7 linked regions of the Homo sapiens genome follow. The protein of the gene in region 1 purifies or fractionates together with the protein of each later gene. This does not show direct contact. Each region holds a gene or a part of one and is shown in the gene's direction. Other genes may lie near its edges.

Region 1 (3,500 bases):
AAAACCTGATCCTTATTGTCAAGCTAAGTATACTTTCTGTCCAACTGGCTCACCTATCCCAGTTATGGAGGGTGATGATGACATTGAAGTTTTTCGATTACAAGCCCCAGTATGGGAATTTAAATATGGAGACCTCCTGGGACACTTGGTAAGGATGCATCTTGGTCTTATAACTTTGGTTAATTCAATGATTTGGTTATTAAGTTGATTTTTAAGGAGTAATCACTATTTAGATGGCTGACTTTAGATCATGTTGGTGTTTGTCTTAGTACATTTAAAATGAGTAGTCAAAAATAGTTACTATCAGATTTTGTAATCTTGACAACAACAAATGTAATCACCATTATCCATTGTAATATTATGAATCTGAAACCAGCTCCTGTACCTAGCTCCTGGAAGGTGAGAAGAGGCCCAGAAGTGGCAGGGCAGGCAGGTAACACCTCTTGATTTCCATACTCTGTTGTAGTCACTTTTCCAGGTTAACCCATCACCATGTGAGGTCTGTAGAGCTGCTTCCAGAGACTGGCATGGGGGCTCCTCACACTTATTCTAAGCTCTAAGGAAATTATCAGCTTGTCCACATAACATGCAGGCCTCCTATTTGAGATGAGCCAAATAGGGGTGTAGTGGCCAAAGCTGGGGTGGATGAGGGCCTGGAGTTTGGGGCCACAGAGTGGATATGACAGTAGCAGCATGGAAGAACAGCTGAACAGTTGTTCTACTTGATATGCATTTGTGATGTGCCACATTTTCTCCTATCAGGTTACCTGGACCCATGGTTGTGTCACAGTTGCTTTTATACATGTACTGTCTTTACACAGAAAATTATGCATGATGCCATTGGATTCAGAAGTACATTAACTGGCAAGAACTACACAATGGAATGGTATGAACTTTTCCAACTTGGCAACTGTACATTTCCCCATCTCCGACCTGAAATGGATGCCCCTTTCTGGTGTAATCAAGGCGCTGCCTGCTTTTTTGAGGGAATTGATGATGTTCACTGGAAGGAAAATGGGACATTAGTTCAAGTAGCAACTATATCAGGTAAGTTGTGAAAATATAGCAATATTTGATCATTGCATCAAAAACCAAATGAAAGAAATTGTTATACTTCCATTGAAACATTTCAGTAATGTTTTACTTAGAGGTCATTTGTAAAATGTACTTTTGGAACCATTAAACTTTGGGAATTTTTTTCATCTCTTATTTGTATTTTTTATTTATTTTATTTGAATAGGTTTGTGGGGAACTGGTTATGTTAAGTTACATGAATAAGTTCTTTAGTGGTGATTTCTGAGATTTTTGCGCACCCATCACCCGAGCAGTGTACACTGTACCCAATGTATAGTCTTTTATCCCTCACCCCTCTCCGACCCTTTTCCCCGACTTCCCAAAGTTAATCATTCTTATGCCTTTGCATCCTCATAGCTTAGCTCCCACTTACAAGTGAGAATACACAATGTTTGGTTTTCTATTCCTGAAGAGTTACTTCACTTGGATGGAATTGGAGACCATTATTCCAGGTTGCTGCAAATGCCATTATTTCATTCCTTTTTATGGCTGAGTAGTATTATTCCTTGGTATATATACACCACATTTTCTTTATCCACTCATTGATTGATGGGCATTTGAGCTGGTTCCATATTTTTGCAGTTGCAAATTGTGCTGCTATAAACATGCATGGGAAAGTATTTTTTGCGTATAATGAGTTCTCTTCCTTTGGGTAGATACCCAGTACTGGGATTGCTGGATCAAATGGCAGTTCTACTTTTAGTTCTTTAAGGAATCTCCACACTGTTTTCCATAGTGGTTGTACTAATTTACATTCCTAGCAGCAGAGAAGAAGTGTTCCCTTTCCCCCACATCCCGCCAATATCTATTTTTTTTTATTTTTTGATTATGGCCATTCTTGCAGGAGTGAGGCGGTATTACATTGTGGTTTTGATTTGCATTTCCCTGATCATTGCATTTCCCTGAGCATTTTCATGTTTCTTGGCCATTTGTATATCTTCTGAGAATTGTCTATTTGTGTCCTTAGCCACCCCCACCCCGCCTTTTTGTTGTTGTTGTTTGTTTGTTTGAGGTGGAGTTTTATTCTTGTCGCTCAGGCTGGAGTGCAATGACACAATCTCAGCTTGCTGCAACCTCCACCTCTTGGGTTCAAGCGATTCTCCAGCCTTAGCGTCCCAAGTAGCTGGGATTACAGGCGCCCGCCACCATGCCAAGCTAATTTTTGTATTTTTAGTAGAGATGGGGTTTCGCCATGTTGGCCAGCTGGTCTCAAACTCCTGACCTCAGGTCATCTGCCCACCTTGGCCTCCCAAAGTGCTGGGATTAAAGGTGTGAGCCACCACTCCCGGCCGTTAACCCACTTTTTGATGGGATTGTTTTTTTCTTGCTGATTTGAGTTCCTTGTAGATTCTGGATATTAGTCCTTTGTCAGATGTATAGATTGCAAAGATTTTCTCCCACTCTGTGGGTTGTCTATTTACTCTGCTGATTGTTCCTTTGGCTGTGCAGAAGCTTTTTAGTTTAATTAAGTCTCATCTATTTATATTTGTTTTTGTTGCATTTGCTTTTGGTGGAACCACTAAACTCTGACCCAAACTATTACTCATGCAGAACTTCACCTGTTGGTGATGAGTAGCTTATCTCTGATCTTTGAATGTTTCCCTAAAAATGCTCTTTTCCCATCATAAAAATGAATAAAATGATAAAACATTTTGTACAATTAAATTGGTCTTTCTAAACGAAATAGTAAGAGAAATCCATAAAATGCCTGATTAAAGGATATGTTAACTATATCTGAAAAAAATTTTAGTGATGATATTTTTATGTTGAAAAATAATAGCTACTAATATAGACTGGTTCTGGCACTGTTCTGAGTACTGTACATACATCACATCATTCATCATCACAACTTCTGGAGGTAGTAACTATTATTTTGCCTATTTTACAGATGGAGAAACTGAGGCACAGAGAGGTTAAAGTTACACAGCTTAGTAAGTGGGACTCCAACCCTGGCAGTTACGCCCCATTGCCCATTCTCCTAACTACTTTGATACATTGCCTCCCAAAATGTATATGATCTTATATTTGAGACCCTCTTGAGCAGTTTAAATATTTTATCTTTGAGATTTTTTTCTTCTTTTGGATGTATTGGAAAGTTGCTGAAAGTTGGAATTGTGTTGCAAGTGCTGCATTGTTGGTTAGTAATGAAAAGAGTTCAGCAATCCTTTCATTGGTAACTCCTTATGTGACTTGGGTCACATTTTATATCTTATTGGCCCGTTGCCTCATGTGCAAAATGGAGACAATATACCATAGCATTTGAGAAGTAAGGAGCTTGTCCATATGATTTATGAAGCATTACATTATAAATTGCTGTTCCCCAGAACAGTAGAAACATCTGAAATGAAAGCACTGTTGTGACAATAATTATTCAGTGAACCCCAGGACTTGAGGAAGTAATCATGCTTCCTATTTGTATAGCTCTT
Region 2 (3,500 bases), on another chromosome or scaffold:
TAGCTGGGCATGGTGGCGTGCCCCTGTAGACCCAGCTACTAGGGAGGCTGAGGTGGGAGGATTGCTGGAGCCCAGGAGTTTGAGGCTACAGTGAGCCATGTTTGCACCACTGCACTCCAGGCTGGGTGACAGATCGAGACCCTGTCTCAAAAAACAAATGTATATATATGTACACACACACACTTATAATTATGAAGGTATATTTCAAACTTGTAGATAATTTGAAAGATAAAGGAAAACATGAAAAATCTTTTTATCCATCTGAAAATACTCTTTTGTCTTTCCAGTCTTACTCCTTTCTGCAATATTTTTTTCTCCCTCAAAGTTGAGATCATTGGATCTAACTTTTTTCTTTTTTTGAGACGGAGTCTTGCTTTGTTGCCTAGGCTAGAGTGCAGTGGCGCAATCTCGGCTCACTACAGACTCCGCCTCCCGGGTTCAAGCGATTCTCCTGCCTCAGCCTCCCAAGTAGCTGGGATTACAGGCACCCGCCACTGCGCCCGGCTAATTTTTGTATTTTTTAGTAGAGACAGGGTTTCACCATCTTGGCCAGGCTGGTCTCAAACTCCTGACCTCATGATCCATCCACCTCAGCCTCCCAAAGTGCTGGGATTACAGGTGTGAGCCACTGCACCCGGCCTCAATTTTTCATCACTAATTATGATACTAGCTGTAGGTTTTTTATAGATGTTCTTTTTTTGTTTTTTGTTTTATTTATTTATTTATTTATTTATTTATTTATTTATTTATTTATTGAGACAGAGTCTTGGTCTGTTGCCCAGGCTGGAGTGCAGTGGCATGATCTCGACTCACTGCGCCTCCACCTCCCGGGTTCAAGCAATTCTCCTGCCTCAGCCTCCCGAGTAGCTGGGATTACAGGCGCCCGCCACCATGCCTGGCTAATTTTTGTATTTTTAGTAGAGATGGGGTTTCACCATGTTGGCCAGGCTGGTTTCAAACTCCTGGCCTCATGATCCACCCTCCTCGGCCTCCTAAAGTGCTGGGATTTCAGGTGTGAGCCACCGTGCCCGGCTGGATCTAACTTTTTAAATTTAAAATGTAAGTATTTCTTGCTGCCATAATTATGGGCAAAGGTTTGTTTTTTTGGGTTTTTTGTTTGTTTTTTTGAGACGGAGTCTCGCTTTGTTGCCCAGGCTGGAGTGCCGTGGCGCGGTATGGGCTCACTGTAACCTCCACCTCCCGGGTTCAAGCGATTCTCCTGCCTCAGCCTCCCAAGTAGCTGGGTTTACAGGCGCCAGCCACCACGCCTAGCTAATTTTTGTATTTTTAGTAGAGACTGGGTTTCACCACGTTGGCCAGGCTGGTCGCGAACTGCTGACCTCGTGATCCACCCACTTCAGCCTCCCAAAGTGCTGGGATTACAGGTGTGAGCCACGGGGCCCGGCCTTGTTTGTTTGAGACAGGATCTTGCTCTGTTGCTTACGCTGAATTGCAGTGGTGTGATCATGGCTCGCTGCAGCCTTGATCCCCTGGGCTCAAGGGATCCTCCTGCCTCAGCCTCCCACGTAGCTGGGAATATAGATGGGCACCACCCTGCCTAATTTTTGTTTGTTTTGAGACAGGGTCTCAATTCTGTTGCCCAGGCTGAAGCACAGTGGTGCGATCACAGCTCACTGCAGCCTTGACCTCCTGGGGTCAAGTGATCCTCCCATCTCAGCCTCACCCAGTAGCTGGGACTACAGGCATGTGCCATCACAACCGGCTAATTTTTTTTTTTTTTTGAGACGGAGTTTTGCTCCTGTTGCCCAGGTTGGAGTGTAATGGCGCGATCTCAGCTCACTGCGACCTCCGCCTCTCAGGTTCAAGCAATTCTCCTGCCTCAGCCTCCCGAGTAGCTGGGATTACAGGCATGTGCCACTACACCCAGCTAATTTTGTATTTTTAGTAGAGACGGGCTTTCTCCATGTTGGTCAGGCTGGTCTCTAATTCCTGACTTCAGGTGATCCACCTGCCTTGGCTTCCCAAAGTGCTGGGATTACAGGTGTGAGCCACTGTGCCTCACTCACACCTGGCTAATTTTTGTATTTTTTGTAGTGACAGGGTTTTGCCATGTTGTCCAGGCTGGTCACAAACTCCTGAGCTCAGGTCATCCACCTGCCTCAGCCTCCCAACATGCTGGGATTACAGGTGTGAGTAGAGACGGGCTTTCTCCATGTTGGTCAGGCTGGTCTCTGACTCCTGACTTCAGGTGATCCACCCGCCTTGGCTTCCCAAAGTGCTGGGATTACAGGTGTGAGCCACTGTGCCCCACTCACACCTGGCTAATTTTTGTATTTTTTGTAGTGACAGGGTTTTGCCATGTTGTCCAGGCTGGTCACAAACTCCTGAGCTCAGGTCATCCACCTGCCTCAGCCTCCCAACATGCTGGGATTACAGGTGTGAGCCACCATGCACAGCTTCCCAGCTAATTTACTTTTTCTTCTTTAAAGATGGATCTCGCTATGTTGACCAGGCTGGTTTCAAACTCCTGGGCTCAAGCGATCCGCCTGCCTCAGCCTCCCAAAGTGCTAGGATTACAGGTGTGAGTGACTGCCTGGCCAGCAAAGATTTCTGAGGTAGTTTTCCTGCTATAGTAACACTTTGGTCAAAGTGCAGGTCTAGTTAAGGAGAACAAGTATTCCAGTACATCTTTAAATACAGTTGCTTGTTTCTGGACACGGAGGGGAGGGAGACCATTGCTGGGCTATACAGATTAGTCTTATCTTGGCTAGTTGAAAATTGGTAATAGTTTTCATTTTGTGGAGAAATTTCATTGCCAAATATTGCAACATTAAGGAAATACATAAGAAATGACTGAAGTGGCTCAAAATTGTTGGACCAATATGTTTTTGAGTAAAGAACTATAAGTTTTAAGTGATGACTGTATATGTTTAATTCGTGCATTAAAGCTTATAAATACCTTTTTCAAAAACTCTTAATTTGCATTTATACAGCATTGTTATTTTTGATACAACTGCATAAGATACATTCTGTGTTGCTGTGAGCCATTAAACTGTTGTCTTGTAATTTATATTTAGAAAATAATTTGTGGATACTTAAAAGTCATTATGGGCGCATTATTTTTTCCCCTTGAATTCTGGGGTGACCTAGAAATGGTTGCATGATTTTGTAAACACTTCCCTTTTTAAAAAAGTAAAATGAGTATGTAAAATATTATATATTTAAAGCCCTCAAGCAGTCGTCTTCAAAAAGATACATCAGGAAATGTAAACAGCCCAACATTTTAATTAAAAAAAATCTGCTTGGACAATTTTTTTTCTCTTTTCATAAAAGTAATACATGATTTTTGGGTAAAAAAAAATTCCTATCAGTAGAGGAGCAAGGAAAATAATTATTCATACAGTATTCATACAAGCACATATAAAACCTATTAAAAGAAAACTTGGATTACCTACATGCTTTTGTATAATTTAAAATGATATAGTCATGATTTGTCTTGGATTTCTTCAATTCTTTTCTTTGTCAGTATTTTTGGATTT
Region 3 (3,500 bases), on another chromosome or scaffold:
CTCTGCTTTTAGTGTTTTTCTTAGAAAAGCTGAGAAGCTTTGAAAGGTGTATTTGCTGGCTGGGCACAGTGGCTCATGCCTGTAATCCCAACACTGGGAGGCCGAGGCGGGCAGATCACCTGAGGTCAGGAGTCCAAGTCCAGCCTGGCCAACATGGGGAAACCCCGTCTCTACTAAAAATACAAAAAAATTAGTTGGGTGTGGTGGCGGGCGCCTGTAATCCCAGCTACTCAGGAGGCTGAGGCAGAAGAATCGCTTGAACCCAGGAGGCGGAGGTTGCAGTGAGCCGAGAACACGCCATTGCACTCCAGCCTGGGCAACAAGAGTGAAACTGTCTCAAAAAAAGAAAGAAAGAAAGATGTATTTGCCCATAGAAACAATTTACTCCAAGGGTCAATTCTCACTAGCTCATTAGCTGTCACCAGATCATTAACCAGACCAGTGTGATAGTGGGTTGTGATAAAGTATCCGTAGCCACATTGCCCAATCAAAATATAAATGTGAGCCCCATATGTAATTTTAACTTTTCTAATAGCCACATTAAAAAGTAAAAAGAAACAGATGAAATTTCAGTAGTTATTTAACCTAATATTCTAAAACTCTATAATTTCCACTTAATGTAAATTATTGAGGGTTTTTTTTTAATACTTAAAGCACATCCCAGCCACATTTCAAGTGCTTAATAAGCACCTGTGGCTACCATCCTCAACAGCACAGATATAGTGTATCCTGCATGCTCTATGGAACTGATGGTAAAGAGTTGCAGGGGGCTGGGCACGGTGGCTCACGCCTGTAATCCCAGCACTTTGGGAGGCCGAGGCGGGCGGATCACAAGGTCAGGAGATCGAGACCATCCTGGCTAACACAGTGAAACCCTGTCTCTACTAAAAATACAAAAAATTAGCCGGGTGTAGTGGCAGGCGCCTGTAGTCCCAGCTACTGGGGACGCTGAGGCAGGAGAATGGCATGAACCCAGGAGGCAGAGCTTGCAGTAAGCTGAGATCATGCCACTGCACTCCAGCCGGGGCTACAGAGCGAGACTCCGTCTCAAACAAACAAACAAAAAAAAGAGTTGCAGGGAGCCCAGACTGACATAGGGAAACCCAGGGAAAGGAGATAGGGAATAGATTAAAAGATGGATAAATAAATGACGGGGAGTTGCTGATCCCTCTTGTAGCCATTCCTTTTTACTGTGTTCTGTTCATATTTTCTCTCTGATTCTCTGACTACTTTCCTTTTGTTTTTTAAGTTTCTCCCTTTTGACATTTCCCTTTTTAGTTGTCTAAATTTTTTTAAAAAAATTGTTTTGGATGTCACACCTTCAAGGCTAATTTCTCCCAAGTAAAGCTCTGTTTTATTATCATCAGACTAATTTTAAGATATTCTCATTGCTTTAAAAAAAAAAAGCTGTCTTTCTTACCAAGTAGTTGAGCAAATTGTTTCCCAATTACTGTGACAGAAATTAAAATGAGTAAAGGAGCTGGGTGTGGTGGCATACCCGGTTACTTGGGAGGCTGAGGCAGGAGGATCACTTGAGTCCAAGAGTCTGGACTATAGTCACAAGTTCATCATCAATATGGTGACCTCCTGGGAGCAGAGGATCACCAGGTTGCCTAAGGAGGAGTGAACCGGCCCGGGACAGAATCAGAGCAGGTCAAAACTGTGCTGATTAGTAGTGAGGTTGTGCCTGTGGATAGCAATTGTACTCCAACCTGAGCAACATAGCGAGACTCCATCTCTTTAGAAAAGTGAGTAAAGATGGAAAGTATAAGACTGTTACTACAAATGTCATTGTTACAAATACTTTGTTTAGAAAGATATTAGATATTTTAATATTTCACATACTTATTGTCATTTGTAATAACTTATTCTAGCACACCATTGGTTTTGTGTTTCAGATAAGCCCGTTTGTTTTTAGACCTCTGATAGTTACCTGAAATGTTTATTTGAAGCCTGAAAGGAAGACTTAATCCTTACCTCTATCACCTGTCATTAAACTGTATGGAGCAAGTCACTGCTTTACTTAGATGTTGTCTTATCATACCTGTTGTTTACATGCTAGAGTTATTCCAATTGAATTACTCCTTGACTGTTTACCTCCCTTTTCTTAGGTTCAGTGGCATACTTTGAACTTTTTAAAGAAGGATGAGCAATGGAAGATAGGATGGATGTTTTCCTAAACTGATTTTTTTTTTTTTTGGAGAAGTTTATCAGGACAGTGGATAAGTGCCTAGGTGCATTTACTGAGCCCACGTTGATGTTACTAGGGTTTTCTACTTTTAAATGATTTATCTTTTTATTCTTGGCTTTTGCCATTTTATTGCCATTGCTAAAACTGAGGAACTCATTTGAACCTCCCAAGGAGAGGAATTTTTATAACTGTTAACTACATCACTTATCAAGCATTGAGGCCAAATAAGGAGATATTTCTGTCTCCCTGTGTATCATATAGATTCAAGGGCAGAGGAGTTATATTTTGAAGCTACCAAAACTATCTTGTGCATGTGTGCTTTTTTTTTTTTTTTTTACAAGTCAGTAACTAATGCAAACACTTTTACATCTGGGATGCTGGGCTTTGTAAATCTAAAATTCTCCCAAACAGTATCTTTCAGCTTCTAGTGCCCTGTTGAAGGAGATCATGAAGAAACAAAGTTCTTCGCCTCATAAATTTAGCATTAAAAAGAAGCCCCATCAGTGCCTGTGGAAACATAGGGAAAGAAAAAAAAAAACACCCAAAGTTGTGCTGATAATTATTTTTATTTTTAAAATTTATTATAGAGCATTGCAGACGTACACAACTTATTTGTTTATTTATTTATGTTTTTTTTGAGACAGTCTTGCTCTGTCACCCAGGCTGGAGTGCAGTGGCGTGATCTCCACTCACTACAATCTCTGCCTCCCAGGTTCAGGCGATTCTTGTGCCTCAGCCTCCTGAGTAGTTGGGATTACAGGCATGCACCACCACACCTGGCTAATTTTTGTATTTTTAATAGAGGCGGGGTTTCACCATGTTGGCCAGGGTGATCTTGAACTCCTGGCCTCAAGTGATCTGACCACCTTAGCCTCCCAAAGTGCTGGGATTACAAGTGTGAGCCACTGCACCTGCCCCCAAATTAGAATAGTATAATGAATCCCCATGTACCTATGCCTAACCTCAACAACAATCAACTTACAGCCAGTTTTTTCTCAGCCACATCCACTTCCTTGCTTCCTTCTTACTTTGAAGTAAATCCCAATCATTATGTCATTTCATCTGTAAACATTGAGGTATATATGTCTAAAATATATATGTGTTTCTAAAAACATTTTTTTAAAGATAATGTCAACCCAAGAAAATTAATAATACCTTCAAATCATCAAATAGACTGAGTCTTTTAAAAATAGAAATTCGGCCGAGCATGGTGGCTCATGCCTGTAATCCCAACACTTTGGGAGGCTGAGGTGGGCGGATCACAAGGTCAGGAGTTAGACACCAGCCTGACCAACCTGGTGAAACCCCG
Region 4 (3,500 bases), on another chromosome or scaffold:
CAAAAACTACCTGGGTGTGGTGGCACACACCTGTAGTCTGAGCTATTCAGGAGGCTGAGGCAGGAGAATTGCTTGAAGCCAGGAGGTGGAAGTTGCAATGAGCCAAGATCACACCACTGCACTCTAGCTTGGGCAACAGAGTGAGACACCATCTCAAAAAAAAGAAAGCTCTTGAATGTGTTATCTAAACAAAGTCCATTTACAGGGCCATCTGTGGCCTGTGGTCTAGTAGTGTGAGACTCATATGGAAACCCCCTCTTCATTGTGCATGCAGAGACGCTGAGGTCCTGAGAAGTCAGTCACTGCTGACCCAAAGCCATCCTTCAAGTGAAGGCAGAGCTGGGACGGGAGCCAGGCTCTGTGTGTCTATCCCTCTGCCTCCAGGGTGAAAGACATGCTTTTCTCCCATTAGGTGGACCCAGGCCCAACGCCGATCCCCCACAACAGCTCATCACGATTTGACTGCAACTCTGTCTCTACGGCTGTGCGTACTCATCTCACCTGGTCCTTGCCTGACCCAGGGCCCCTGGGTCTATAGACCCCACTCCCAGCCCTTCACTACCCAGCTGGGACTGTCATGATTAAAACAGTTGAGACCTGGGCTGGGCGCACTGGCTCACACTTGTAATCCCAGCACTTTGGGAGACCAAGGTGGGAGGATCACTTGAGCCTAGGAGTTTGAGACCAGCCTGGGCAGTATAGTGAGACCCCCATCTTAAAGAAAAAAATTAAAAAATATATATATATAAAATAATTGAGACCTTAATATAATTTCTGAGGCTGAGGCGGATGGATCACTTGAGACCAGGAGTTCAAGACCAGCCTGGCCAACATGGTGAAACCCCATCTGTACTAAAAATACAAAAATTAGCCAGGCATGGTGGTGCACGCCTGTAATCCCAGCTACTCAGGAGGCTGAGGCAGGAGAATCACTTGAACCCAGGAGGTGGAGGTTGTAGTGAGCCAAGATCGAGCCACTACACTCCAGCCTGGGTGGCAGAATGAGACTCACTCTCAAAATATATATATATATAGTTTCTGAGTCCTTTCTGTCTGCACCATATATTAGCTCATTTAAGCCACACAGCAGTCCTGTGAGCTAGGTGCTATGATATTCCCATTTTCCAGATGAGGAAACTGAAGCTCAGAGAGTATAAACTCTTGACACACAACTAAGGAGTGGGAGAGCTGAGACTTGAACCCAGGCGTGCCTGACTCCAGAGCCTGTGTTTGTAGCAGGCCTGTTTGGCCAGCTCCTGCCTCTCCTTGGCCACGTGGTTGGGAGGGTTGTCCCCTGGAAGCTCTGCGGTCTCACTCTATTCTCCTGTCCCAGGCTGTGCTCCTGGCGGACATCCTCCCCACACTCGTCATCAAATTGTTGGCTCCTCTTGGCCTTCACCTGCTGCCCTACAGGTCTGGGTGAGGGTAGTGGGAGGCAGGGTGGGCAGGAGCTGAGAAAGGGGAGGCTGGGATGGCTGAGATGCTGAGAGTAGAGACCGACCTTCCCCCTCCCTTCCCTTCTCACCCCCTCAGCCCCCGGGTTCTCGTCAGTGGGATTTGTGCTGCTGGAAGCTTCGTCCTGGTTGCCTTTTCTCATTCTGTGGGGACCAGCCTGTGTGGTGAGTGTGTGGTTCTGTGTCAGATGGGGAGCCCCGAGGAACCACATCAGAGCATTTGTGGGAAGAGTCTCCCCAGCCTCCCAGAGGAAAGGGATTCATTCTGTCACCCTTAGAAGCCTGCTAGGGCTATCAGCAGTAGGCGATGGGAGACTGGGACAATTTGGAGGGGTAGGCAGTGGAGGAGATGGGAGAAAATGGATGAATTAGATGGAGATTGAGGTGAACAAAGTCAAGACTCTGTGATGGACCAGGCACAGTGACTCATGCCTATAATCCCAGCACTTTGGAAAGCCAAGGCAGGCAGATCACCTGAGGTCAGGAGTTCGAAACCAGCCTGGCCAACATGGAGAAACCCCGTCTCTACCAAAAATACAAAAATTAGCTGGGTGTGGTGGCAGGAGCCTGTAATCCCAGCTACTCGGGAGGCTGAGGCAGGAGAATCTCTTGAACCTGGGAGGCAGAGGTTGCAGTGAGCCGAGATCACGCCACTGTACTCCAGCCTGGGTGACAGGGCGAGACTCCGTCTCCAAAAAGAAAAGAAAAGAAAAAGACTGATGAAGGGGCAGAGACATCAAGGGTGCATGTCTGCCCCTGGTCTGATAACTGGGTGGATGGAGGTGCCACTCTCCATGAAGGGACACGCAGGGGAGTGGGGCTCTGCTTCAGACCTGGAACCTGGCCTATGCATGGGATCTATTGGAGCCTCTATGAGCTGATACTGAGGAGGCCATGGCCAGACACATTAGAGGCCTGGGCAGTGTGGCAAGGTGTGGTGTGACCATCCCAGTGCTTGTCCTCCCCCCAGGTGTGGTCTTCGCTAGCATCTCATCAGGCCTTGGGGAGGTCACCTTCCTCTCCCTCACTGCCTTCTACCCCAGGTAAGCAGGTGGAGCAGGGAGTGTGGGGAGAGGCTGTCCCATGGTCAGCCTAGGTCCTCCTGAATGTTCCTGTGTTCTCCTTCCCAGGGCCGTGATCTCCTGGTGGTCCTCAGGGACTGGGGGAGCTGGGCTGCTGGGGGCCCTGTCCTACCTGGGCCTCACCCAGGCCGGCCTCTCCCCTCAGCAGACCCTGCTGTCCATGCTGGGTATCCCTGCCCTGCTGCTGGCCAGGTGAGCTGCCCTGAGCCGGGAGGGAGAGGGGTCCAAGGAGAGAAAACTTGGCCATGGCTGGGTGTGGTGGCTCACGCCTGTAATCCCAGCACTTTGGGAGGCCAAGGAGGGCAGATCGCCTAAGGTCAGGAAACCAGCCTGGCCAACATGGTGAAACCCCGTCTCTACTAAAAATACAACAATTAGCCAGGTGTGGTGGCGGGTGCCTGTAGTCCCAACTACTCAGGAGGCTAAGGCAGGAGAATCGCTTGAACCCCGGAGGCAGTGGTGGCAGTGAGCCGAGATCGTGCCATTGCACTCCAGCCCGGGCGACAGAGTTAGACTCTGTCTCAGGAAGAAAAAAAAAAAAAGAAAGAAAAGAAAACTTGATTATGATTGCAATCTTCAAGTCCCTACCTTGCTGTGAAGGGAGGCGGAATCTGGACTCTGATAGCCCCAGGTGTGAGTCCTGGAGCTGCCACTTTTTAGCTTTGTAGCGTTGAACAAGTTACTCCACCTCTCTGAACCCTCAGTTTCCCCATATCTCAAATGGCAGTTGTTCTTGCTTTCCTTGGAGGTGATGAGGGTAATGCATTCAGCACAGTGTGGTTCCCAAGGTGATTAGAAGTAGGATGAGGGTGGACTTTATTTGATTAGTTCCTTTTTTTTTTTTTTTTTTTTTTAATCAGTGTTGACCAGGTTGGCCTCGAATGTGTAGCCTTGCCTGCCTGAGTGCCAGGGCAACAGGCCTGAACCATGGCGACTCCCTTTTTTTTTTTTTTTTTTTTTTTTT
Region 5 (3,500 bases), on another chromosome or scaffold:
CATTAAAACTCCCCTCTGTTTGAAATATCTATAGTAATTTTTCTTTTCCTGACTAATACAACCTGTTAAAGAAGCTGAAGCTCTGGTAAGTTAAATGCCCAACAATGGTCTTGAGTAGCTAGTGATTTTTGTTGCTATTGGTAAGTAAATCTAGACACTACTTTTTAGTCCCTTTTTTAAAAGAGGACTGGTTTATCTATGATGAATACATGATTGATTGATTGATTGATTGATTGATTTTTACTTTTTCTTTTTTTTTTTTTGAGACGGAGTCTTGCTCTGTCACCCAGGCTGGAGTGCAGTAACATGATCTCTGCTCACTGCAAGCTCCTCCTCCCGGGTTCACGCCATTCTCCTGCCTCAGCCTCCTGAGTAGCTGGGGCTACAGGCATCTGCCACCACGCCCGGCTAATTCTTTTGTATTTTTAGTAGAGACGGGGTTTCACCATGTTAGCCAGGATGGTCTCGATCTCCTGACCTTGTGATCCGCCTGCCTCAGCCTCCCAAAGTGCTGAGATTACAGGCATGAGCCACCACGCCCGGCCTAATTTATTAAAACTTTCGGGTGGTCAGGTAATTCTGATTTGTCAGCCATATTTCTAAATTATCATTGTATTTTATCTTACAGTTCTTTACAATGTAGAAAATCTTATTTGAGTGTTGTTTACCTCTAATAATCATGTTTTAAATCTAGAGATGCCCAATTTTGAATAAAATGGAAGCCTTTCTAAAAGACTATAATTTTAAATGATAATATTCCATTCATATAATAATTGCTACTTCACATGTACACAATTGAGTGCCCTAAATACTAAACTTAAAGAAACTAATACTTCAGGTGATTGCTAAACTCTTAATATCTATTTCTCAATTTCAAAGTTGAAAACCAGCAACTTATAACCTAAAACAATTTTTTTTCTGTTTCTCCTTTCTAAAGCTCTTTCACCATGCCTGGATCACTTCCTTTGAATGCAGAAGCTTGCTGGCCAAAAGATGTGGGAATTGTTGCCCTTGAGATCTATTTTCCTTCTCAATATGTTGATCAAGCAGAGTTGGAAAAATATGATGGTGTAGATGCTGGAAAGTATACCATTGGCTTGGGCCAGGCCAAGATGGGCTTCTGCACAGATAGAGAAGATATTAACTCTCTTTGCATGACTGTGGTTCAGAATCTTATGGAGAGAAATAACCTTTCCTATGATTGCATTGGGCGGCTGGAAGTTGGAACAGAGACAATCATCGACAAATCAAAGTCTGTGAAGACTAATTTGATGCAGCTGTTTGAAGAGTCTGGGAATACAGATATAGAAGGAATCGACACAACTAATGCATGCTATGGAGGCACAGCTGCTGTCTTCAATGCTGTTAACTGGATTGAGTCCAGCTCTTGGGATGGTATGTTACATGCCTATTCCCCGCCGTCCCCCAAAATTTTTTTCTAAGGTTCAATAGACCCAGATGACACTTTAATTAATGCAATACGCAAACTTTTGTAATTTGTCCTTGTTTGGATATATTAAGAAAGATATTTTACCTGTCTGTCATTATCCGAATTGTGAATTGGTTATCTTATCTTGTAGGACAAATGGTCTATTCAAAATTTAGTCAGATGGATGACAGAGCCTTGGCAGATGAATTTTAAAAAAAAATTAGAGCATTTTCTTTCTTTATCAAAGAAGGGAAAAGCATATTCTGGGGAAAATATAACAGACTTCAGTTTCCATGTTTGGTTATAGTGTTGAATTCCTTCTTGTGAAATAACAAAAAATATTTTTCAGGACGGTATGCCCTGGTAGTTGCAGGAGATATTGCTGTATATGCCACAGGAAATGCTAGACCTACAGGTGGAGTTGGAGCAGTAGCTCTGCTAATTGGGCCAAATGCTCCTTTAATTTTTGAACGAGGTAAGTGCTTGGGAAAGCATTTTTGTTTTTTTTAGCACAATATGCTGAGAAATTTGAAAATAGAAGTAGGAGCTGTCGCTTACTTAATGGTCATTAAATGCAGGTACTACTTGCTAAGAGCTTTATGTGTGTTATCATATTTATGTTTTTTTTTCTTTTTTTTTTTTTTTGAGACCGAGTTTCACTCTTGTTGCCCAAGCTGGAGTGCAATGGCACGATCTCGGCTCACTGCAACCTCTGCCCCCAGGTTCAAGTGATTCTCCTGCCTCAGCCTCCTGAGTAGCTGGGATTGCAGGCACACACCACCATGCCTGGCTAATTTTTTGTATTTTTAGTAACAGGGTTTCACCATGTTAGCCAGGCTGGCATCGAATTCCTGACCTCAGGTGATCCGCCCCCCTCAACCTCCCAAAGTGCTGGGATTACAGGCGTAAGCCACCATGCCTGGCCTGTATTTAATCTTCATAGCAGTTTTATGAGGTAGGTGGTGTCATCCCCACTTTACAGAGAAGTGGGTTAATGTAGGGTTCAAATGATAAATAGTAACTTGCTGATAGTCACTGGCAATTTTAATTTGTCTTCAGTGTAGTAGAGTAACTGTGAACTGTTAGAGTTATGAAACTGACATGGAAAGTTGTATACCAAAGGAGTCTTAGGACTGTCCATGGATACTGTTATGTATCATTTCACTTATATTGGCTTCAGCTTGCGATTTCTCTACTGTAAGTGGTGAGAATTGATCAGATAGTTAAGGAAGGTCCTTAGATAATGCAGTATACTTATTAACATACAGACATCAAGAAGCAGAAATATATAGACATCTTCCTTTTTGGTTCTAATAGGGCTTCGTGGGACACATATGCAACATGCCTATGATTTTTACAAGCCTGATATGCTATCTGAATATCCTATAGTAGATGGAAAACTCTCCATACAGTGCTACCTCAGTGCATTAGACCGCTGCTATTCTGTCTACTGCAAAAAGATCCATGCCCAGTGGCAGAAAGGTAAGTTTTACCCATTTTCCTTGGTTTTGGTATGAGTTGAGAGCAGTCTAATGTACTAGGTATCTTTGGTAGGCAACTACTTTGTGGGCATTCTTCATTTAATATCCTTTTACCATTAATTCCTCATTCACCAAACAACATTTTCCCATAGTTTCTGGGAAAGTGTAATTTACTAGAAGAGGTAAACTTTGGAACTGAGGTGTATCTCTGCAAAAATATTTAGGTCGGTTTACCCCTTGTAAGAAAATCAAAGTGGAGAAAAGAAGGTAAGTTGAATTTTGTTCATCTTTTGAGAGAGGTATTTTAACAAGGTTTTGGACTACAGCTGTGATTCAGGGAAAGCTAATGAAAATGAATTACTAAAGTGATCTTACCCCAAAAATAATCTTTTTGCACTTGACCTGTGAATTTGTATTTGTTTTTTTACTGTTATCATTAATCTGGAAATTTGTTGAGGCACTGAAAGGACAGTATTTGAGTTAATGCTATCATAACACATTATTACATAAAGTATACTTTTTCTGTAGTCCAACTTTGCTTTTTAGAGGTTATGAGAAGGGGTTAAAAATCATATTCAATGACAAATATC
Region 6 (3,500 bases), on another chromosome or scaffold:
CCTCCAGATTCTTATATTTAGGGTGAAATCAAACAAATCTCTGTTTATATTGGACAGTAATGGGAGTTAGTAAAGCATTTTCACCTTTACAATTCCCCATATAATCTTCATGTTATGGGAACACATTTTCTGAACTCCAAAGAGAGAGAGAGACTTATGACAGCGATTTTAAGCTCCAAGGAAGTGTGTGTGTGTTTGTGTGTGTGTGTGTGTGTGTGTGTGTCTGCGTGTCTGTGTGTCCATCCCATGGTGGTGGCATATTGATAGGGATTCTGATAGCCCCTCTTATTGCCCCAATTATATGGGTGGGGGGCATTAGAGAAGGATAGCTTTCAATTATTCTAATAGCCCCTGGCCCAGGACTGCATCTTTGGAGACATAGCCTGGAGCTTTTGGCTTCTTCAGAGTTGAAGTTTGTCTTCCATTGCACAGGCAGGAACACTGAGCTGGAGTGAACCAGATGGTCTTTATGAACCAAAGTGGAACTTACACAACAGGATTTAGATGGGTAGTCTAGCGATGTGTTTATGCATTTGTGCGTATGTGTGTGTGCTGGTGTTGAGAAGCAGGGGCAGAACCTCTGAGGAAGAGAGGCCTCACATGAACAGCTGTGAGGAGGTGGAAGTGAAGCCAGTATATTCAGAGGAGAATGAGGAGGTGTCAGATTGGCCCCACAGCAGCAGGAAAGCTGAGCATCTGAGACCAGATGCTGGGAGATACCAAAGTTTGCCTGAACACCTTGTATGGATTTAAGTTTAATGAAACCAAGGGGCTTCAGGTGGTCTATGCCCTGCCTGAGTAAGACTGACGTATTTAGGCTCCCTTTCCCCCTCCAAAGGATACTTTCTGGCTACATAATACTTTAGGCAATGCTTTCTGTGCCCACCCAGGATGAGGTGCTGACCCAGGCCCAGCTGGGGGGAAGCTTTATGGATGTTCCAACTGCTTTTCATCCACGCACCAGGCTCATTTGTGCCAGATGAAAGGGCACAATAATAACAGTGGCAATTTAAATCGTGCTTCTCACTTTCCCCCTGAAAAGTGGCGAAGTGACTCACCACTGTTGAATTGTCCCTCTCTATCCACCCCCTGACCTCTTTGCAGCAGTCTAGGCTGGTTCCCTGGGGGCTAAGCTGGGAGCTAGAGCTTCCAGAGGCCCTTTAGCTGTGACTGGGATGACATCATGCCCCCCCATAAATGTGTTCCCCAAAATGCGATGTATTGCTTTAATTTGGGTTTCTCAGATGAGGCTGCTTGGAAGGCATTAGAGCAGCATGAGCCCCATTAGGCAAGTGCAGTGCCCCCCGACTCATGAATAATATAAAATGGGGTCCATTCAGTAATCTTTTCTGAGGGAGAGGCTCTGCTTGTTTTTCTACATGCAGTTTGGTATGCAGATGCTTGCTCTATTTGAAATTCGCCATATACCAACTTCTGGTAGTGATATTGTAAAAATGGGTCTGGGGGAGCTGTGAAATCATTCTGTTACTCCACCCTGATTCTTCACCTCCATTTCCCTCCATACCCAAATCCCCTGACCCTGTGGCTAGAAAATGTTCATTTTCAACTCTTTCTTTCAGCACCAGCCTACGGAGAGCTCCCAGAACTGGAGCTAGTGAGGTGCACTTGTGCCTAGAGTAATTACAGATTTTGAAGTATCAACAAAGCAGGTAATTAGGTGGAGAAAGTATCCGCTGTCTGGGAGACAAAGACAGTAATTATGATGAGTACTCTTGGTGCTGTCAGTAAACTCAAAAGAAAGATTTGTAGAGAAATGATAATGTTTGATAGAAACTTCAATGTCTAGCAGGAATCAGGGGACTCTTAGTAAAGCCACCTGGTATGTAATACAGGTTTAGGAAATATGGTAGACCTGAGTTCAAATACCAGCTCAGCCTCCTAGGGTCTGTGTGATCTTGGGGAAATTACTTAACTACTCTGAGCCTGATGTATGAAGTGTAAAAATAGCAATAATTATAGCTCTGTCTACCTTACAGGATCATTGTAAGGACCCAAGGAGATAATGCATGTCAGAACACTTAGCACAATGCCCAGTACACAGTAGGTACTTAACAAATGGCAACATTATTATTATTATTACAACTATCCTTGCTACATACCAGGTATTCTCTACAGCCGTTCAGAGTTTAAAAAGGGAAAGAAATGATTGCAGTTATGTATGATCATGGCATGAGAAGTATGAAGGGTGTAATTGTGGTGGCTCAAAGAAGCGAGCCCTCAGTTGAGAGGGAAAAGTACAGAAGAGCAGAGAAAGTTTTGTGATTCTGGAGTTAGGTTTAAAAAAAATAAGTAGGAGTTTGTCACAAGGCCCAAGGGGAAAGGGCTTCCAGGCAACTGGATCTGCCCACACAAAGCCAAAAAGGTGTGAAACAGCCAGGCCCTGAGCAAATAGTTGGGCTCAGCTAGGCACCAGCTGGGATCTCCTGGGCGGGGGAGGGGTGTCAGGTCAGAGACCAAGAATCTTTCCAGCTTACTCCCACCAGCCCCTGTATCGCGCCCTAGGCGCCCTACCTGGCCAATCACGTGCGGTGCCCTCCTCTTCTTTCCTTTAAGCAGCCAGGTACATTCACACCCTGCCCCAGCGGGCCTTGCCGACACAGAGGTGGGCGGGCAGGCGAACCCCCACGGTGAAGATCAGACCAGCGGGAACCCCTGCCGGGGTCGCGGCCCCTACTTCCTTTCTTCTCTCAGTCCCAGCCCAACGTCCCACTCGTCCCCGCCCCCAACCACACACACGGTCACTTGGGTTCTTTTAGACAACCCTGTACTCTCACACACCGCACCCATACACTTACGCGGCAATCCCCCTTCAAGACACACACAACCCCTTCATCCAAGCACGTAAGCTGACCACATGCGTCCACACCACACACATGAGAACATCACACCAAAAGACACACACCGCACCCTCACATGCATAAACCTTTGAACACACATCTCAAGTAGATTGACTTATAGAGAAATCTTGCACACGCACACATTCACACACTACACAGTTCAACAGACACCACCTGTAAACCCACATTGACACACTGCATCTAAGCATAAACACACTCCACACATATGCACACAAGCTTCAACGGGCACACACACATCCACACATTGCACACACATATACACTCACCACAGCACGACCACAAACCCCGGCAGGAACAGCACACACCCACCTTCAAACCGCACCCACATAATCCCACTATAATCGGGCAGAAACATACAACCTATAAGCGTGCACACACAAACACATGCTGCATGTCAAAGCGCAAACCAAATACACACCACACCAAGCACTCCAGCTAAAACGTGCTCCGCGCACACACCCCCCACACCCGGCCACACACCGAACGCACACACAGATCTACCGCACCCGCGCGCGCGCACACACGCTTACATGCATACATACATACATACACAGCCCGCCCCCGCCTTCCCTTTGGGCGGAAGAGAAGGGGGCGAGGAGGAGAGGAGGGGAAAAAAGGAGG
Region 7 (3,500 bases), on another chromosome or scaffold:
CTAACTTATTCCAAGAATGTCCCTTATTGAACTGCCTTTGGGCATCACCTTTATCGGTTGATTCTGTTGGCAGCCTGAGTTAAAGGCTGTGCTCCTTGCTTTTTCCCTGGAGCATAGCTATTCCATGTTGCCAGCTGAACACAGAGCCATAGGGGTAGGGTTGGCATTCCCTCTTAAAAGTTGAGGAGCCTGGATAGGAGAGGACTTCACCTCAATGGACTGTTAGGAAATTGGGCTGAGACTCTGGGGACTCAGCAACTGTGAGAATTCCAACACTCACTACACTCACTGTGACAAATTGTTTGAATATTTAAGCAGATTTGGTATTTTCTGGATAGATGTAGCCACAACTAGCAATTAGTTTTCTGATCTGTTTCTTTCTTTGGTCTTTATACTTATTTAAATACAGCTAATTATTCATGACCTTCCTTTAAATAGTTTTAATGGGGAGATGGAGAATCTAGTCTTTGGCTGCTTTTTATTTTGAATTTTGCTATGAAGATTACTAGTTAATGGTTCAAGAAGTGTTTGTTTTCTTTCGTGAATGAACATTAATCTAAAACTCTTAGTATTCTGAGATTATCTCAAAAAGTGTCCATTCTCTTGCTGCCTACGTTTGTAGGAATAATCCTTGTGGGTTCCCTTGTTAGATCTGCCTGTACTGTTTGCGTTGTTTGAATATTTCTTTTAAACATTTCCCAAAACTGCCATAAAAAAACAGTTTTAAAAGGTGGTAATTGAGAGGTCACCCTTTTCTTCGTCTCTGCCCTTTTCTTGGTTAAAGGAGAGCTTTCTTCTTCGTCATTGGTTAAATTTATGCGTTACGAATGATGTAATTAACCTATATGAACCTACTAAAAGTTAGAATATGCTCCCTTGAGTTCAGACCTGTGAGATGTTCTGGGGTAAAACTGAACACAGACCAATATTAGCCTAGAACCAAAAGAAGGAAATTTGGGGGCACATTAAAGCATTAATAATAAAGACAATTTGGTCTGTAGGACTAGTACACTTTGTATTGACTTTTCATTCTTGGATGAGTTGTTGCTGTGATCATTGATTCATTTATGTGTATTGTGTTCTTTCCAGTGTTGCAAATGGGACAAAATTGAGAATACTAAAATGAATTGTTAGCTGGGCATGGTGGCACGCATCTGTGGTCCCGGCTACTTGGGAGGCTAAGGCAGGAGGATCACTTGAGCCCAGAAGGCAGAGGTTGCAGTGAGCTGAGATAGCACCACTGTACTCCAGCTTGGGTTACAGAACGAGATCCTGTCTCAAAAAAAAATAAAATAAAGTAAAATAAAATAATAAAATAAAATAAAATAGAATAAAATAAATAAAATGAATTGGACTCCATTTTGATGTTCAAGAAAACCAAAACCATTCCAGGGGGCTAAGTTCTCTGATGGAAATGCTCCCACTACAAGGTTTGTGGGAGCAGTAGGAGAAGAGCCCATTTCTGAGGAGATGAGGGAAGTCTTCTGAAAATTGCTAGTATTTCAGAAGGAATGGATGGGGAAGAGTAAAGATCCAATCCAGTGGTTGGAAACAAATGAAGGGCTGGGAGGTGAGAGCACAGGCTACATTTAGTTAACAGCAGGTAATAAAAACTAAAAGCAGCTGACACTTACTGAGCGCTTACTAGATACCAAATTCAGTTCCAAATGTGTTTCATTGTTGATTCATTTAAAATTCAGTTCCAACTGTGTTTCGTTGTTGATTCATTTAATGCCTCAGCCTTTTGAGTTAGTTACTATCATCCTTTTTTTATAGATGAAGGCTCTGAGATACCAAGAGGTGATGTTAGTGGCCTAAGATCTGATAAGTATGGCTGGGTACGGTGGCTCACACCTATAATCCCAGCACCTTGGGAGGCCGAGGCAGGTGAATCACCTCAGGTCAGGAATTTGAGACCAGCCTGGCCAGTCTGGCCCATCTCTACTAAAAATAGGAAACAATTAGCCGGGCATAGTGGTGCATTCTTGTAATCTCAGCTGCTCGGGAGGCTGAGGTAGGGGAATTTGCTTCAACCTGGGAGGCGGAGGTTGCAGTGAGCTGACGTCGTGCCATTGCACTCCAGCCTGGGTGACAGAGCAAGACTCTGTCTCAAAAAAATAAAATAAAATAAAAAAGATCGGATAATTAGGAAATTATCGAGCTGGGGTTCAAATCCTGCCAGTCTGGCTCCAGCAGCTGTGGCCTCACTCTGTCCACCATGTGTGCCTGGTAGTTTAGTGTGGTGGAGAATAAAGTATATGGGAGAGGTGTGGGAGATGACTTAGGAGAGGGGTAGGTGTCTCAGTGTAAACCAGACTTTTATTTGAGAACTGCCTTACCTAGTGCTTTTTGCATGCCAGGTACTTTTCCAAGAGCCTTACAAATAGTAACTCAATTAATTTTCTTAATTCTAAGAAGTAGGTGCTTTCTGTTTTTGACTTCAACTTACAGGTGAGAAAACTGAGTTAGGGGAGGTTAAGTAATTTCTCACGCTTGTGCAACAGGTAAGTGCTACAGTCTTGATTTGAACCTTGCCAATGTGTCTTCAGAGTCTCTGCTCTTAACCTCTGCGCTGCTCTCCCAGGTCTTACCAAGAGTTCCATTTGCGAAGGTGTATGTGTGAGAGTTCACATGCCATCGGGTATGGATGTGTATATTTCCTGATCATCCCAGTCCAGTAGTTCTTATCTTAGAACACCTTTGTCACTCTGTATATGCTTCATTTCAGTGTTTATTAAGTGTATTTCTCATCTCTCCAACCAGATCGCAAATCCCTGCAGGACAGGAATTGTCATATACCTTTTATTTAATTGCTTTATTGAGATATAATTCAAGTACTATACAATTTACCCATTTAAAGCATATGATTTATTGGTTTTCAATATATGCACAGAGTTGTGTAACTGTCACCACTGTCATATACCTTTAATCCAGTTTCCATTAGGATTTGGACTATAATATATATATATATATTTGGGACAGGGTCTCACTCTCTCACCCAGGTGGAAGTGCAGTGGTGTGATTATTGCTCACTCTAGCCTAGACCTCGTGGATACAAGAGATCCTCCCACCGCAGCCTCCTGAATAGCTAGGACCTCAGGCACACACCACCACACCCAGCTAATTAAAATTTTTTTTTTTTTTGTAGAGACGGGGGTCTTGCTATGTCGCCCAGGCTTTGGGCTGTATATTTAACCTCCATGTCTTCCACATTGTTCACCCATCATAAAACCCTCTTCAGAGGTTTGTCATTGAGGATAAAATATATTGAGGTTATTAAAGATATTCTTCAAATGGCAGGGTTTTTTCTCCCCTATGTAAAAACTCTACTAAGTATTTGGTGATATCATAATAAAACAAATCAGTTTTTGTGCTAGGAATGGAGGAAAGAAGGTTTGAGTTGTTTTTATGCTACCATGATGATGATTATTAAAACAAATATCTATGGCTCCACTGTTTGGGTTTTAGGGGTTCTTATCTTGTTGGAGCTGGATGGCCTT

What was found.
Region 2: the proteins of CLN5 (region 1) and ARF4 purify together in Homo sapiens (affinity purification with mass spectrometry, with the first as the bait; one large-scale study listed by BioGRID). This does not show direct contact.
Region 3: the proteins of CLN5 (region 1) and CALU purify together in Homo sapiens (affinity purification with mass spectrometry, with the first as the bait; one large-scale study listed by BioGRID). This does not show direct contact.
Region 4: the proteins of CLN5 (region 1) and CLN3 purify together in Homo sapiens (co-immunoprecipitation; one study listed by IntAct). This does not show direct contact.
Region 5: the proteins of CLN5 (region 1) and HMGCS1 purify together in Homo sapiens (affinity purification with mass spectrometry, with the first as the bait; one large-scale study listed by BioGRID). This does not show direct contact.
Region 6: the proteins of CLN5 (region 1) and ARHGAP36 purify together in Homo sapiens (affinity purification with mass spectrometry, with the first as the bait; one large-scale study listed by BioGRID). This does not show direct contact.
Region 7: the proteins of CLN5 (region 1) and SLC25A13 purify together in Homo sapiens (affinity purification with mass spectrometry, with the first as the bait; one large-scale study listed by BioGRID). This does not show direct contact.

Annotation. Positions count from the first base shown.
Region 1 is NC_000013.11:76,995,081-76,998,580, forward strand, and holds part of CLN5 (bis(monoacylglycero)phosphate synthase CLN5), read left to right. Parts: coding exon 1-148; intron 149-821; coding exon 822-1,047; intron 1,048-2,962; coding exon of another isoform or gene 2,963-2,991; exon of another isoform or gene 2,992-3,005; intron 3,006-3,500. UniProt on the Homo sapiens protein: Exhibits palmitoyl protein thioesterase (S-depalmitoylation) activity in vitro and most likely plays a role in protein S-depalmitoylation.
Region 2 is NC_000003.12:57,587,345-57,590,844, reverse strand, and holds part of ARF4 (ADP-ribosylation factor 4), read left to right. Parts: intron 1-3,500.
Region 3 is NC_000007.14:128,759,859-128,763,358, forward strand, and holds part of CALU (calumenin isoform a precursor), read left to right. Parts: intron 1-3,500. UniProt on the Homo sapiens protein: Involved in regulation of vitamin K-dependent carboxylation of multiple N-terminal glutamate residues. Seems to inhibit gamma-carboxylase GGCX. Binds 7 calcium ions with a low affinity.
Region 4 is NC_000016.10:28,485,575-28,489,074, reverse strand, and holds part of CLN3 (battenin), read left to right. Parts: intron 1-412; coding exon 413-484; intron 485-1,333; coding exon 1,334-1,413; intron 1,414-1,533; coding exon 1,534-1,619; intron 1,620-2,424; coding exon 2,425-2,497; intron 2,498-2,584; coding exon 2,585-2,728; intron 2,729-3,500.
Region 5 is NC_000005.10:43,296,413-43,299,912, reverse strand, and holds part of HMGCS1 (hydroxymethylglutaryl-CoA synthase, cytoplasmic), read left to right. Parts: intron 1-937; 5' UTR 938-947; coding exon 948-1,395; intron 1,396-1,778; coding exon 1,779-1,904; intron 1,905-2,746; coding exon 2,747-2,911; intron 2,912-3,500. UniProt on the Homo sapiens protein: Catalyzes the condensation of acetyl-CoA with acetoacetyl-CoA to form HMG-CoA, which is converted by HMG-CoA reductase (HMGCR) into mevalonate, a precursor for cholesterol synthesis.
Region 6 is NC_000023.11:131,064,846-131,068,345, forward strand, and holds part of ARHGAP36 (rho GTPase-activating protein 36 isoform 1 precursor), read left to right. Parts: intron 1-3,500. UniProt on the Homo sapiens protein: GTPase activator for the Rho-type GTPases by converting them to an inactive GDP-bound state.
Region 7 is NC_000007.14:96,315,599-96,319,098, reverse strand, and holds part of SLC25A13 (electrogenic aspartate/glutamate antiporter SLC25A13, mitochondrial), read left to right. Parts: intron 1-3,500. UniProt on the Homo sapiens protein: Mitochondrial electrogenic aspartate/glutamate antiporter that favors efflux of aspartate and entry of glutamate and proton within the mitochondria as part of the malate-aspartate shuttle.